Linked DNA regions of Homo sapiens. The protein of the gene in region 2 purifies or fractionates together with the protein of the main gene of each other region. This does not show direct contact. Each region holds a gene or a part of one and is shown on either strand. Other genes may lie near its edges.

Region 1 (3,500 bases), on a different chromosome or scaffold from region 2:
AGGAGCTTGGCAAATTATTTTTTCTAGGATGCAGGTAGACTTTACTAAATGATTAATTATAGCTTTTATCCTCTCCTTCAAAGGTTACGGTTAGATGCTTGTCACTTGCTTGTCCTGATGCCTTAGTCCAGCTCTCTCTGAATGGAGACTAGTTGGTGTTGCCTGAGTCCTCTGAGGAGTGCTGTGATGACAGCATCCTACCCACAAGGTTCCAAGCCACAAGGCTCTGTGCCTGCTGTCAGCAGCCAGAGTTGTATCTGGAACAGGGTTCTCCACCAGAGTCTAGGCTTCCTGGGGGTGCTGCTCACCTTCCAAGTTATGGGGATTCTGTCCTGATGTCGAATAGTTAAATACTCAGCACAGAGCAATAACCTATGTGTTTGTGATGGGTTTATTTTAATGAATCTAGATGAGTGAAATGCACATTTTTAGAAACTAGGTTAAGAGAGACCAACTCTCCCAACTAAATTTTTTGTTGTGCCTAGTTGGGGGTTTTTTGTTTTTAGTAATAGTGACCATGGGCCTGATGAGGGAGGCCACTGGGATAAGCTTTGCGGGAACTCCCGGAATGTTTGAGAGGTTCTCTTGTTCTGGTCTTTCCTGAGACTGAAGCCACTGGCAGCAATGTGCACGCTGAGCCGCAGCGCTCTGGCTGCTGGATTGTGTCCATGACTGCTCAGGACGTTGCCAGGATGTTGTGTTTTCCAATAATAAGCATTACTCTATAAATGCAAATTACCATTGTATGTAAATGTCATTGTACCATTTATCAAGCATTTACTCTGGGATAGGCAGCACTTTATGTACATTATCTCAGTGTTTCCTCATAAAAACCCGGTGAGGTATTTTTGTCCCCATTTTATAGATGAGGAAACTGGGTCTCAAAGAGTTTAGGTTTTTGCTCAGAAGCATATAGTTGGTGTGTGACAAATCTGGAAATCACCCCAGGAATGTCTGACTGCAAAGCCCCTCCTCTCAATAAACTACACAAAGTCTGCATTAAAAAAAGAAAAAAAAATTCCCACAGCCATGCTGACTCTCTTCTAGGTTCTAGTCTTATATTTGGAAGCATTAAAGATAGAATCCTGAACCTAAAGACAGTATCAGTAGTGACATCTGCAAAGATAGACTGTCATCTGCCAGGTCCTACTTTGACCACAACACGGAAGAATAATAAATGACTGGAAGCCTAAGTAGTTGTATACAATTATTAGATTTTGTTTTAAGTTCTAATAGGTGCAAAAAAGGCCTCATGAAAATGAAATGTTTCAGATAAAAGAACTACATTAAAATAGAGCCATGAGTAAAAGAATCAGATAACTATGTGTTAAACATTTTACATTTCCTTCGAGTTAATTTACATTTGTAGAGTAATGCTTAATGCACATTCCTGTATACAACTACTTTGAAGTCCTTAACATGACCAGAGCATATTATCACAATCATTGGTGTGGATCATTGTTAACTATCTATCTGTTAATTCTTACCTGCCCTGCCCTTTCAAAATTATCCTAATAACATGTTGCTGCATCAAATCTAGAACTTAAATAAGTGGATAAAATATATAGCTATGTCTGTTAACCATTTATTAAGAATCTCTTTTGTAGGTGAGGCACTATGTACTTTATCTTCATTATCTATGTAGTTTCCCAAAATCTGCTCAAAATATGTAATGTGATCCTAATTTTTAAAATGAGAAACCTCAAGTTACCCAGGCTGTGAACTCAACTCCACATTCCTGTGCTTTTCTTTCTGTACCACACCATCTCCTTTAACCACCAGGATAGCCTCTGGGTTTGCTATGGACATAGGCATAAGATTGATTTTACTAAATATCAGCTGTCCCAACATTCTTATGATTTTGAGTTATCAGAAAGACCTGAGTTTCTAAAAACTTGAGCTTTGGAATCACAGAATTAACTTGAACAGCCTTATCATAGAGAAATGAAACAATTTTGAAATAGCTGTTTGAAAATAGGTTGAGGATCCTAAATTAGGAACCACTAATCTGGTCTTTTTTTGTTGTTTAGGAAACTGAAGCACAAAAAAGAGAAGCTTCTCATAGTGTTACAGAGCTTATGCCAGAATTAGGACTTAGAATTTAGGTCATCTTGCAGCAAGTCAAGTGTACCCTACTGGACCCCAGTGCCTTTCTCCCTCCCTCATACCTCTTTATCGACCTACATATCTACCTACTTCTCTCTCTCTCTCTCTCTCTCTCTGTTTCTCCATCCATCCACCTACCTACCTTTTCTCCGTTGTCTTTTAAATAATGTATATTACCAAAAAAAACACCTTTTCTGCAGAGGAACTTAATCACCAAAACTGATGCTTGAGGTGTTTTGTTTTCTTCCACTCTCATGTTAAGATTTTTTCTATTTCAGAAATTAACCCTGCAGCATGTGAACAGTAATCAGTGCCTGGATAAAGCCACAGAAGAGGATAGCCAGGTGCCCAGCATTAGAGACTGCAATGGAAGTCGGTCCCAGCAGTGGCTTCTTCGAAACGTCACCCTGCCAGAAATATTCTGAGACCAAATTTACAAAAAAACGAAAAAAATAAGGATTGACTGGGCTACCTCAGCATACATTTCTGCCACATTCTTAAGTAGCAAAAAAGGAAAAGTGCTTTCCTCCTCTGCAGGATGTAAGGTTTATCAGCCATTAAAACTTAGACTTCTCTAGCTTTTCACTAGCTGTGAACCAGCCTTCCTGTCCATGGACGTGAAACTGCATAGTAATGAGACTGTGCACACTGATGTTTACAAGATTGAAAGAGTCTTTCTCCGAAAATCATGGTAAAGAATACTGAGACAATGAAAAAAAATCAACAAAATATGCTTTCTGGAGAACTGTACCTTTTATGGTTTGCTTGCACATCAGTAGTTTCTGCTGAACGTGCTGTCATAATGAAGAGATTTCCAAGATTTTTTTTCCTGATTAGAACTGGTAGCCAGTATATTAAATATTGATATAAAAATAAAAGAACTGGAACCAGATTCAGAATCATGAAAACAACATTTTTACAACAACAAAAAAACTATATTAAACAGGGTTTAAAGGAAATTAAAACAGAACTATGAGAAGTACAATTTGTTATAGTATAGTATCAAATTTCTATATAGATTTTATACCTCAGTGGGGAAAAATAACTGATTCCAATGACATTCATTTTGTTTTCATCTGTGATAGTCATGGATGCTTTTATTTTCCTTGGGGTGCTGAAATTGAGCTGAAAAAAAAAGGCTCTTTGAATATAGTTTTAATTTCTCTCTACAGTTTTTTTTGTTTGGTTTGTGGGCTGTTGGAATTGTAATTTTTAATTGCCTTCTAAAAAATGGAAATTTAACAATGTCTGATCTCAGCTGAACAAATTAGATGTTTCAGTTGCTCTTGGGTCAACTGGCTTACAGATTTACATGTGCACACACACACAAATTTCTTATCACATTTTCGACTTCTTCACTTGACCTAACTGATTATGCGAAATACCCAAGATTC
Region 2 (4,171 bases):
GAAGAAGAAAGAAAAGAAAAGAGAAATGGCCTGAAATTGCCCACCAAGGTTTCTTCTGGATTGCAGCCCATCTTTCCTTCCACCTCTGTCATGCTGTGCCTCTGGCCTCCACCCTTTGTTGCTCATGGTGTCTGTGTCCCTGAGTGTCTGCCATCCTCTGTCCCCATCTGCCCCCAACCACCTTGGAGAGGAAGAAGCCGCACCTCCATCTTGGATGCTCCCCCAGCCTGAGATCCAGCAGTGGGTGTTTGGAGGGAGGTGGATAGAGGCATCAGGTAGGCAGATGGGCAGGACCCGCTCTGAGAACTGTATGGAGCGCTCGAGACGCACCAGGGCAATGTCTGCACAGGCACCTTCCTTCCAGGAATACACAGGGTGGGGCTCCACCCAGGCAACACCCACCTTCTGGGACCGAGAGCCAGGGTTCCCCAGCTGCCAGGCCCCCAGCAGCACAGAGAACAGGTATGGTTTGTTCAGGTTGCTGGAAGGAAAGGGAAGGGGAGGATCAGCCAGGCCTGGTCTGGGAGGAGGTACCTGGGGGAACAGCATGGGTGTGAAGGCCCCTGAAGGCAGGAGAGGCTTCTAGGTAGAATCGAGGGGCACCAAGATTGAACAGAGGCCCGGAAGCAGAGCCTGTAAAGGGAGCCCAGGGCCTGGGGCACAAAGCCCAGGGCCTTAGAAGATCAAGTGCCCCAGGCCGGCTGTACATACTCCTTGAAACAGTGGGCAGCAGTGATCACCCAGCGGCTGGTGAGCAGAGAACCTGCGCAGTGGTGGGTCCCATTCTTCTGGATGCTCACGATCCAGGGCCACTCGCTGTCAGTGCTGTCCTCGCCGCCCACAACCCGGTTCAGCTGCTGGGGCTTCCCACAGGCTGGGGGAACTGGAGGGTACGGTCAAGTTTTGTTATCTCCAACTTCCTACAACCCACCCCCGGAATCCCAATCCCTAGGCCTGCACCCCAAGCTTTGCCCACAGCCCAAGCTCCGTTCATGTCCCCAAGCTCTACCCACATCCCAAGTTTCACTTGCACTCCAAGCTCCACCCACACCCCAAGCTCCACCCACATCCTAAGCTCCACCCATACCCCAAGCTCCGCCCACCTCCCCGTCCCATCCCTCCCTCCATCCTCACTCTCTGCTGGTCCTCACCTGGCCCTGGCCTTTCCACTCACTCCTTGTCAGCTGCACCTGGTCTCTCCCTCCCCCTCTTTCCTTACCCTGCTTTCCACTCTGTTCACCTTCCTGGCTCTCTCTCTCCTCTGGCCCTGGCATCTCTCAAGCCTTTCTCCTTGCATCCGTGTCTCCTTCCTGCCTCCCTTCCCCTCTAGCTCTTTCCCCCTCTCACCCCAGCCCCTTTCTGACCTGTGCCCAGGGGACGGACACATAGACACTGCCTGCGCGTGGGCCTCCTCCCTTCTCCCTCCCGTCAGAGCTGCCAGCTCCACTCACCAGGTATCCTGGCCGCATTGAGGATGGCTGAGGGCAAGAGAAGGAAACGGTTAGGCCGGTGAGGGGCCCCAGGACACAGTGGTGAGGGGCCCTCAACGCCCAGTGAGGAAGGCCCCCAACACCCAGTAAGAAGGGATCCCAGTGCCCAGTGAGGTGGAGGTCCCAGCACCCAGTGAGGAGGGTCCCTCAGCGCCCAGTGAGGAGGGGTCCCAGCACCCCCTGAGGAGGGTCCCTCAGCGCCCAGTGAGGAGGGGTCCCAGTACCCAGTGAGGAGGGTCCCTCAGCGCCCAGCGAGAAGCCCCCAGCACCCAGTGAGAAGGGGTCCAGTGCCCAGTGGGAAGGGGTCCCAGCACCCAGTGAGGAGGGGTCCCCAGCGCCCAGTGAGGAGGGCTCCCCAGCGCCTAGTGAGGAGGGTTCCCCAGCGCCCAGTGAGGAGGGGTCCCCAGCGCCCAGTGAGGAGGGCTCCCCAGCGCCCAGTGAGGAGGGGTCCCCAGCGCCCAGTGACGAGGGGGTCCCAGCGCTCAGTGAGGAGGGGGTCCCAGCGCCCAGTGAGGAGGGGTCCCAGCGCCCAGTGAGCAGGCGTCCCAGCGCCCAGTGAGGAGGGGGTCCCCTTGAGTACCTGGTGGTGAGGAACCTCTAGCCCTCCAGTGCCCAGGGAGACTCTCAAGTCTCTCAACCCCAGGGCCCCTACCGGCGGGGCATTTCCTGGGGCCTGGCCAGGCCCTGGCTGCACAGCTGTGACCCTGCCCTCCCGCAGCTTCCCGTCCAGCCTGCCTTCCGGGGACCAGGACCGGCTCCTCGAGGGAGGCACAGACCTGAGCCCCTCGGCTCTGGACGCTGCTGCCGCTGGTGTGCCCTCCCCTGACCTCCTGCGGCAGGAACAACACAAAACGGTGCTTCCCCAGAGGCAAGCAGCGGAGGACGAGGAGATGGGAGAACACGGAGGCGAGAGGGAGCAGGCGATGGCGACGCCGACGGTAACTGGAGACCGAGGCGCGCTGCGTACTTGCTGCGTTTTCTGTTTCATCCTCACAGCCGTAGAAGAAACCGAGGCACAGAGCAGTTAAGGAGCAAGAGATAAACAGAGCAGAAGCGGAAAGGAGATGAGAGAGGCAAGGCCAGGAGGGAGAGAGGGAGGGAGGGAAGGAGGGAAGGAGGGTGGAGGTGAGAGGGAGGAGGGAGGAGCAGCCTCCGGACGTACCTGTCGACGCCAGCAGCAGCAGGGAGGTGAAGGTGCCGAGACAGCCCCCACCCAGGGCTGGGGGCGCTCCAGAAACCACCATGGCTGGTGGGGCGGGGGAGCAGGCAGCAGGCTCGAGAGACCCAGGGCGATGCGGGTCAGGGTGTGTAGGTTCCCTGCAGGTCGCCCCAGGTTTTATCCTGGGAGGCGGAATGCCGTCAGACCAGTCCCCAGGTGGCTCCCGCGGCCACCCCGGCTGTGGGTCCTGGGCAGAGGGCGGGGCTGCGGGGAGGAAGCCAGCCGCTACAGGGCTCTGGGGGGGCTCTAGCTGAGACCCCAGGATGTGGCCTCTGGAAGGGCAGGGGAGGGGGCTTGGGCCCAGAGGTCCCTGACATTAATTGTCCAGGGGCAGAGAAAGGTGCCAGGGCACTGAAAGGAAGGGGTTCCGGGCTGGGGAGGGCCTGGGTTTGGAGAGGCTGAAGTCTGGGGTACTGGGTGTTGGGGGTGGTCCTAGGGCCTTAGGGATCAAGGGGGTGCCCAAAGCTCAGTAACGGCTCCCACCTGCAGGGCCCCAGGCCCCTGTGACTCAGCCCAGAGACCTGGCGCAACCCGGGCTTGGGAATCCCGTTAACCCACTTCCCGAAAGCTGTGAATCAGGTGAGTGGCGACCTTGGTGGCCTCCTGGTGGCCGCCCTCCTGTCGTTCCTGGAGGCGGGGCTCTGCCCTGCGGTTCAGACACCTGACAACTCACCTCACCTGGACTCCTGGGAAGGGGAGGAGCCCATGGGCACCAGGGCTCGGCCAAGCAGGGGGGTTGAGAGAAGAGGGGCCCCGGGAAGGGCTGGGACTCCCAGGATTCAAAGAGCTGCTGGGCTGGGCTGTGGGGGGCCGGGTCCTGGGCTGGGAGTGGATTCTCGGTGCTTCCCCCCAGCGGCTGCCACAGTGGCAACCCGGGGCTGAATCCTGTGAGACCTTCCCTGACTCAGTGCCCTGCAGCGCCCCACACTTGGGACACTCCCACCCAAGCAGGGCAGGCTTCCTCCTCTACAAAGAGGCAGGAGCCTGCGCCCCTTCACTCATTCGATCAACAAGCCTCCAGCAGGGCCCTTGCTACCGCCGGGGGTGAATTAAAAACAACCATAGTGTCTGGGTGGGGTGGCTTATTCCTGTAATCCCAGCACTTTGGGAGGCCAAGACGGACAGATCATGAGGTCAGGAGTTCAATACCAGTCTGGCCAACATAGTAAAACCCCGTCTCTACTAAAAATACAAAAAAAAAAAAATTAGCCAGGCATGGTGGCAGGCGCCCTTAGTCCCATCTACTTGGGAGGCTGAGGCAGGAGAATCGCTTGAACCTGGGAGGCGGAGGTTGCAGTGAGCTGAGATCACGCCACTGCACTCCAGCCTGGGCGACAGAGCGAGACTCTGTTTCAAAAAAAAAAAAAAAAAACCATAGTAGTGAATATGTATGTAATAAATATATTTATACAAATATAAATATAGTATTTATATAATAGAGCAAACATTTAGGAGTGCCATG
Region 3 (3,500 bases), on a different chromosome or scaffold from region 2:
GCCTCCTGAGTAGCTGGGACTATAGGCGCCCACCACCACGCCCGGCTAATTTTTTGTATTTTTAGTAGAGACGGGGTTTCACCGTGTTAGACAGGATGGCCTCGATCTCCTGACCTCGTGATCCACCCGCCTCAGCCTCCCAAAGTGCTGGGATTACAGGCGTGAGCCACCACACCCGGCCCTTTTTAAATTTTTTTTAAAGACAGAGTCTCGCTCTGCCACCCAGGCTGGAGTGCAGTAGTGAGATCATGGCTCACTGCGGCCTCAAACTCCTGGGTATAAATGATCCTCCTGCCTCAGCCTCCCAAGTAGCTGGGACTACAGACCTGCACCACCACACTTGGCTGAGTCTTCTTTTTTGGAAAATAAACAAGAAGAAAGAAAACTGTTATTCCTTTAAGACAAGCATAAATTATTTCAGGTTCATGCCAAGATAACTCGTACTAATATAAATAAAACCTGTCAGCTCCACTGGTATGAGAAGTTGAGGTCTCACTCATAAAAATGGCTTTGAAGACATTTCAACAGCTCCTCTATGATTAAAACTAAAAATCAGCTTTGGCAGTCCTTCTTCAAAAGCTTAAATGGTGCACAGACACAACTGTTGAACACAACTTACAATCAACCAAAGAGGATGGTTGACCACTAGTATCCAATAAGCAAATATAAACATCAGGGTTATAACGGAGAAGGGGTTCTGTTTGTCAGTTTCCCTGTTTCCATGAAATTTAAAATCCAGCCAATGAGCTCCTGGAGAGCAGGAGTCAGATCACACTCAACCTCACATCCTTAGCAGCTATCATCAGGGCTAGTACATATTAAGTGCTAAATTAATCATTGTGAAGACAAGTCAATTCAAGGGTAGAATAAGAAATAAAATTAAAAATTTGCCAGGCATAGTGGTGGTACACTGTAGTCCCAGCTACTTGGGAGGCTGAGGCAAGATGATTGGTTGAGCCCAGAAGTTTGAGGCTGCAGTGGGCTTTGATCGCACCTGTGGATAGCTACTGCACTCCAGCCCGAGGCAACATAGCGAGACCCTATCTATAAAAAATAAATAGCCAGTAACTTTATCAGTTCTACTATTAACAAAATGGATCTTCTACATATCATGATATCTGCTAACACTTACATTGATGACAATAATAATAGCTAACTTATGTTCACTGAGCACTTCCTAAATGCCAGACATTGCAAAGTGCTCTGATACATTGCATTTAATCCCCAATCCTGTTATTATCTTATTATTATAATATTATATTATTACATTATTACAAATGAGGACGTTGAAACTGTGAGAATTTTCCAAAAGTCATACAGGCATCTTAATAATAGCTAATAATTTTTAAGCACTTACTATATCTGTGACACCATTCTAAGCACTAAGTGTAGAGACTTATTTAATCTTCAAAACAATGAGTTACAAATGAGTTAAATGAGTTAAAGAGGCACAGAGAGGTTGAGCAAACTTGCCCAAGGTCACCCCCTCCTCCCCATAAGTGACCTTGCTAGGCTACAAACCCAGACAGTTTGCCTCCAGACTCTTAATCACTGAGCTATACGTGGCTCAGGGGTCACTGCAGAAATACAAACTGAGGCAGCCTGACTCTAAGAACCAAATTGGTCATTATTCTGCTCTTTCGCCCGGCAATTAAGCCAACTGACATTTAGAGGAGGAGGATATGGATGTTATTGTCATTCTGCACGTGGAGAGGAAGGGAACAAGGTGAAGGAAGTAAACAAGTGGCAAGTTCAAATACGACTTTTTTTTTTTTTTTTTTTTTTTTTTAAATTAAGACAGGGTCTGGCTCCATCACCCAGGCTGAAGTGCTGGTGCAATCACTGCTCTCTGCAGCCTCAACCTCCCGGGCTCAAAAGATCCTCCCATCTCACCTTCTCAAGTAGCTGGGACTACAGGTGCGTACCAACATGCCTAGCTAATCTTTGTAGTCTCTGTAGAGACGGGTTTTCGCCATGTTGCCCAGGCTGTCTCAAACTCATGGACTCAAGCAATCCTCCCACCCTGGCATCTGAAAATGCCGGAATTGCAGGCATGAGCCACCTCGCGCAGCCACTAGCTTCTTTCTTTAAACAGCTGATACTAATCACTTATCACCGCTACCATCTGACTTCCCTAACCCAGTGTCTCTTTACACTTCCAAAGCACTTCGGAAATACTTTTCAAATAGTATGCACTAGAATGCAGTCTGTTGTGTGTAGACAGGGTTGTCTGCAAGCTCCCCAAGGTCAGAGACTGTGCCCATCCCAGGCCCCGGCACAGAAGAGGCCCTCACATTGACTTTATCAGCAGCTGATCAGTCTCCACAAGCAGATCACTGCACGTCCACCCAGGAGTAGGTGTGATTGTCTGTCTAATGCCAATCTTGCCCACTCACTTGTGACCACAAAGACAGAAGCCATCTATGTTGTTTCTTGCTGTGACCCCACCTCCTAGCCCAGTGTCCAGCACTCAGGAGGGCGTGTGTAAGTATTTGTCAAATAAATGAAGATCAGATGCTCAAAGACCCAGCAGGATATAATTTTATAAAGAAAGTTCTATGCTTGCCTCAATAACGCATATTTGGGGCTCTTCCTTATTACCATCCACCGGCACCTTGGCTTGATTCATAACCCACTCCTGGACAGCATCAGTAATGTGAGGGACAACTGTAGAAAGAAGTATTAATACAAAAGTTTATTCCATGCTCATGAGAAAAGAATGTGCTTTAGGCCTCCCCAATCACCTGAAAGTCACCTGGCAAGTTACCCTGACATATTTTTGGAAAATGAAAAGAAAAAAACGCAACAATTTTAAAAGAATTAGAACTTGTAGAGCGCAGGGACTGTGACATTTTCAGTTCTACTTGGTTTTTTTGGCTTTGTTTTGTTTTTTTTTTTTAAGATGGAGTCTCACTCTGTCGCCCAGGCTGGAGTGCAGTGGCACGATCTCGGCTCACTGCAATCTCTGCCTCCTGGGTTCGAGCAATTCTCCTGCCTCAGCCTCCCGAATAGCTGGGATTACAGGCATGCGCCACCATGCCTGGCTAATTTTTGTATTTTTAGTAGAGATGGGGTTTCACCATGTTGGTCAGGCTGGTCTCGAACTCCTGACCTCAGGTGATCCACTGGCCTCAGCCTCCCAAAGTGCTGGGATTACAGGCCTGAGCCACCGTGCCCGGCCTTCAGTTCTACTTTTGAGCAGTACAAAGATATTCAGCACACAGGGCTCCATAATGTCTGTGGAATATAATACCTTGCACTGTTTTCCCCAGGTAATCACCACGCCTCTCTTTATTGATCACATGCTGATATATCTTCCCCGTGGTGATATTGTTGTCTTTATAAAGATTAATATCCAAAAATCTTTCATAATTTCCAAGGTCTAAATCAACTTCTCCACCATCATTTAAGACGAAGACTTCACCTAGGATTAAAAAGGCAATGGAAAAATCAAAACTTTGCTTCCAGTAGATTTTTCAAAGATGGACATATTTTTGTTA
Region 4 (3,380 bases), on a different chromosome or scaffold from region 2:
TGGACAAGCGCTGGAGCCGCAGCCCTCAGACTGGCACGGGAACGCCAGCGTTGGGTGTTCAGATTCCACGCGTATGTCTGGGCTCACTCACAGCATGGCCGAGTGTCTGCAGTGCTGGTCCTGACCCTTCCAGAGCAGCAGTGGACAGATGAGATAAGACTGTTTCAGAAACAAAGATGGCCACAGCCTTCCTAACAAGCAGGTCATCTGGCCATGTCTGTATTGTAACTGGTAAAAGGCTTCAAGTCAGATTGATGATCAAGAAAAGTCAAAACCCCAGCCCAAGATTGGGAAAGCAGGTGGTGGTTCCAAGCTTTTAAAAAATTATTGAAGCTCTCCATCCTGTTCTGTGAGTGTGTCTTCTCTTTCTCCTTCACGTCATAGCCGTGACCCACCGTTCATCTCTGCTCTTGCGTAAAGATGACCGATGGAGTCCAAAGCCAAGTGGCTTCACCAGCTGACAAGCCACCCTCCTGCAGCCTGAGTTTCACAGTCCACTGGGTTCGTTGTCATGCGGTGTTTGAATGGTTAAGCCCTTGCAGTATTTCAGATCGGGCAAAAAATATCGGATGCACATAGCAGAACCATTGGTGGTATTTATAGCTTTGCTTTGTACTCCTCACTGTTTCTGCCTACGCAAAATATCCATGTTTCCTCTGAGAAATCTGTTGTGGACTGAAAGCGCTGCTGGCTGTGAAATTTAATAAAGTGTGTATGCTTTGCTAGAAAATTATTTCTTGGACAATAGGAACAGTCATTGATCTGTAAATCCTGGCTCTTAACAGTGAGTGGCCAAGGACTTGATCAGCCCATTTCTTGGTCCCTCAGTGCTTTAAAATTTAAGTAGCACTGCATTTTGTAATGTTGAATATGACTCTAGTGACTTGTAGGAGGCACTTGTGAGGAGATGCTTGCTTCAGTGTAAAAGATGCTCATGGCCTGAGTCAGTTGAGTTTTCTTTCAAGAAACCACTTCAGAGTGAAATATCCAGGGTTTCCCCGCCCTGGACATGTCCAGCCTGCCCAGGCAGCACACAGCCCTGTAAGTCCACCTCGTGTGGGTGAGATTTCCTCCTGCGTGATGACCTCATCGCCATCTCTGCTGTCTCATTCCACAGCCTCCCTCCCTCTTCTCTCCTCCTCTGCCCTCGCCCTTCCCCCTTCCCCATCCCCTCCCCCTCCTCCTCTGCCCTCGCCCTTACCCCTCCCCCTTCCCCTTCCGCTCCTCCTCCCTCCTCCACCTCTTTCTCCTCCTCCTTCCCTCCTCCTCCCTCCTCTTCCCTTCTCTGCCATCTTTCTCCCCGTGCCTATTGATCCCACATAGGCTCATTCTGGGTACACCGGCTAAAGGCTTTGGTGCATTGCAGCGTTTTCTCCCAGCAGCTGTGTGAAAGATGCATTTTCTAAGCTAAGGAGAATTTTCTCAAGAGTGGCATACTCATGCCAAATATTATTGCTCTGGGCCATATAGGCTGGTCTTCCTCCACACTAAAATGGGTGTCTTGTTTTGGTACTTAAAACAGTCTACTCCAGGCATCCAGTCCTTACAGACCAAGGAAGAGCATAGCGATGCCTGTTGGAATTGCAGATGCATTCTGGCCTTCTCCCCCGTCCTGAAACATTTTCTTTGAGGAAGGCTCTTAGAACATTAGATAGTCTGCTGAGGTTGTTGGCCCAGCTCCATACACCCAGTAGAACAGTGGAACAACTCATGCTTCATGCTGCCAAGCTGCTGTACTTCAAAGGAAACAGATCTAGCACACTGCTGCACCCCTGCTTCCACACTCCACACTTCACCCCGCTGCTTTTCTCTGACCCGCCCCTGGCCTTGTAAGACTCACGTAAGCTAAGTCCAGGATGCCTGTGGCCTGCGGCTTGATTCTTCCCTTTAGGATTCAGCAAGTTAATGGCTTCCTCGCTATAGAAGTGAGACTTTGACTTGATGCCTCTTGGTATATCAAAAAGATATTCATCCAGAAAGTACCAAATGTTCTGAAAGACCCGCTCTTCACTCCAGTTTTCCCTAGGGTGTTTCTGGCAGGGCGTTTTTAAAAGGCATCTACCTGAGTTGACGCTAATACTTGTCACCACCTGGAACGTAGTTATCGGTCGGCAGGCTGAACATACTCCAGATTCCCCAGAGGCCACTTCTGTAGCCCAGCGATGCATCTGAGCCTCTCTGCGTGGTTTATGCTTGAAAAATAGATAATGCTTTTAGATGGTTCACTGCCAGGCCATGGGCCCCACACATCTCAGGCCCTGTGTGAGGGAGCACACTGAGATGGTGCAGGAGTGAATGGGCATGGCTTGGCCTCGCTACCTCGGGGACCTGTTGGAGTTCTGGCAGCAGGGTGTCTGCAGGTGGGACGGCGTTCTGGGCAGAGTCAGAATGGTCAGAATGAAACAGAACAGCCAACTCACCCACAGGACAGCTTATTTTGAGGCAAGGTTTTGGATTTTGGAGGAAGCAGCCAGATGAGGCGGTGAGCCTCCAGAAGGTCAGCCTTTGGAGCACGTAAGATACTGTTACAGGGTCCAGAAATCGTGTTCACATGGGGGCTTTGACTCTTCAAACAGCTTTTGCAGATCGTAAATTGCATTTGCCTAGTCGTGTGACCTCAAAAGAAGTCAGACATATTTAATCCAGAAATAGTTTCGTTTGAGGGAGGGCTTGCAGGTCTGTAAATAGCATTTGCTTTCCTGGTTAGAGATTGGGATGCAGAAGGAGTTTTCAGTATTTTTTTTAAAACACTAATGATCATTGAAGAGTATTTATGTAAACATACAACGTATAATGGGTGGGGGATCCGATCATGGTGATGTACGGGGTGAATTCTCTTGCCGTGTTGCAAATGTGTAAAATAAAGATTATCTGGCAGAACCGTGTGTGTTTGAGATGCAGGGAGTTGCCGGCTCCTGGTGCTGTCTCTCCTCCACCTCCATCTCATAATTTTTTTCTTTGTGATTTTTGTTCATTAAATTAGTTAACTGCCTCCCACCAGCTCCTACTGACAATAGTGACACCTACTAGAGAAGTTCCAGGCATCTTAGCCGATCTGTGGCAGCGCAATTAAGACCCAGATAACTGAAAACCGGTTGTAGGTTACTGCTGTCCTGCTTACGCTGGAGGCGGGCGATGTCTTGTGAACCAGTGTCGGGGCACTGCTGCCATTTGAGGGGAGATGGCAGGCCTGGCGCAGAGCCCGCACTGTGACAGGCGCAAATGCACCTTCTGCATCGGTTAGCAATAGCTCTGGGTTACCCCATGTTGGAAGCAGAGAAATCCAGGATTTTAGACTCAAAGCATTTTTAGAAGTCATTCAGTTCCAAAGCCCATATTTTACTAAGAATGTTTTAAACTGAGGCATATTTTACCTACAG

What was found. Proteins that work in one complex are often made in the same cells at the same time.
Region 1: the proteins of PRSS22 (region 2) and GALNT1 purify together in Homo sapiens (affinity purification with mass spectrometry; one large-scale study listed by BioGRID and IntAct). This does not show direct contact.
Region 3: the proteins of PRSS22 (region 2) and CTPS2 purify together in Homo sapiens (affinity purification with mass spectrometry; one large-scale study listed by BioGRID and IntAct). This does not show direct contact.
Region 4: the proteins of PRSS22 (region 2) and GPR107 purify together in Homo sapiens (affinity purification with mass spectrometry; one large-scale study listed by BioGRID and IntAct). This does not show direct contact.

What each region holds. Positions count from the first base shown.
Region 1 is NC_000018.10:35,707,240-35,710,739, forward strand, and holds part of GALNT1 (polypeptide N-acetylgalactosaminyltransferase 1), read left to right. Parts: intron 1-2,384; coding exon 2,385-2,531; 3' UTR 2,532-3,500. UniProt on the Homo sapiens protein: Catalyzes the initial reaction in O-linked oligosaccharide biosynthesis, the transfer of an N-acetyl-D-galactosamine residue to a serine or threonine residue on the protein receptor.
Region 2 is NC_000016.10:2,855,371-2,859,541, forward strand, and holds the start of PRSS22 (brain-specific serine protease 4 precursor), read right to left. Parts: upstream 2,801-4,171; 5' UTR 2,735-2,800; coding exon 2,653-2,734; intron 1,479-2,652; coding exon 1,452-1,478; exon of another isoform or gene 1,365-1,451; intron 884-1,364; coding exon 712-883; exon of another isoform or gene 550-711; coding exon of another isoform or gene 482-549; coding exon 204-481; intron 1-203. UniProt on the Homo sapiens protein: Preferentially cleaves the synthetic substrate H-D-Leu-Thr-Arg-pNA compared to tosyl-Gly-Pro-Arg-pNA.
Region 3 is NC_000023.11:16,695,670-16,699,169, forward strand, and holds part of CTPS2 (CTP synthase 2), read right to left. Parts: intron 3,425-3,500; coding exon 3,254-3,424; intron 2,668-3,253; coding exon 2,567-2,667; intron 1-2,566. UniProt on the Homo sapiens protein: Catalyzes the ATP-dependent amination of UTP to CTP with either L-glutamine or ammonia as the source of nitrogen. Constitutes the rate-limiting enzyme in the synthesis of cytosine nucleotides.
Region 4 is NC_000009.12:130,137,285-130,140,664, forward strand, and holds the end of GPR107 (protein GPR107 isoform 3 precursor), read left to right. Parts: 3' UTR 1-2,880; downstream 2,881-3,380. UniProt on the Homo sapiens protein: Has been proposed to act as a receptor for neuronostatin, a peptide derived from the somatostatin/SST precursor.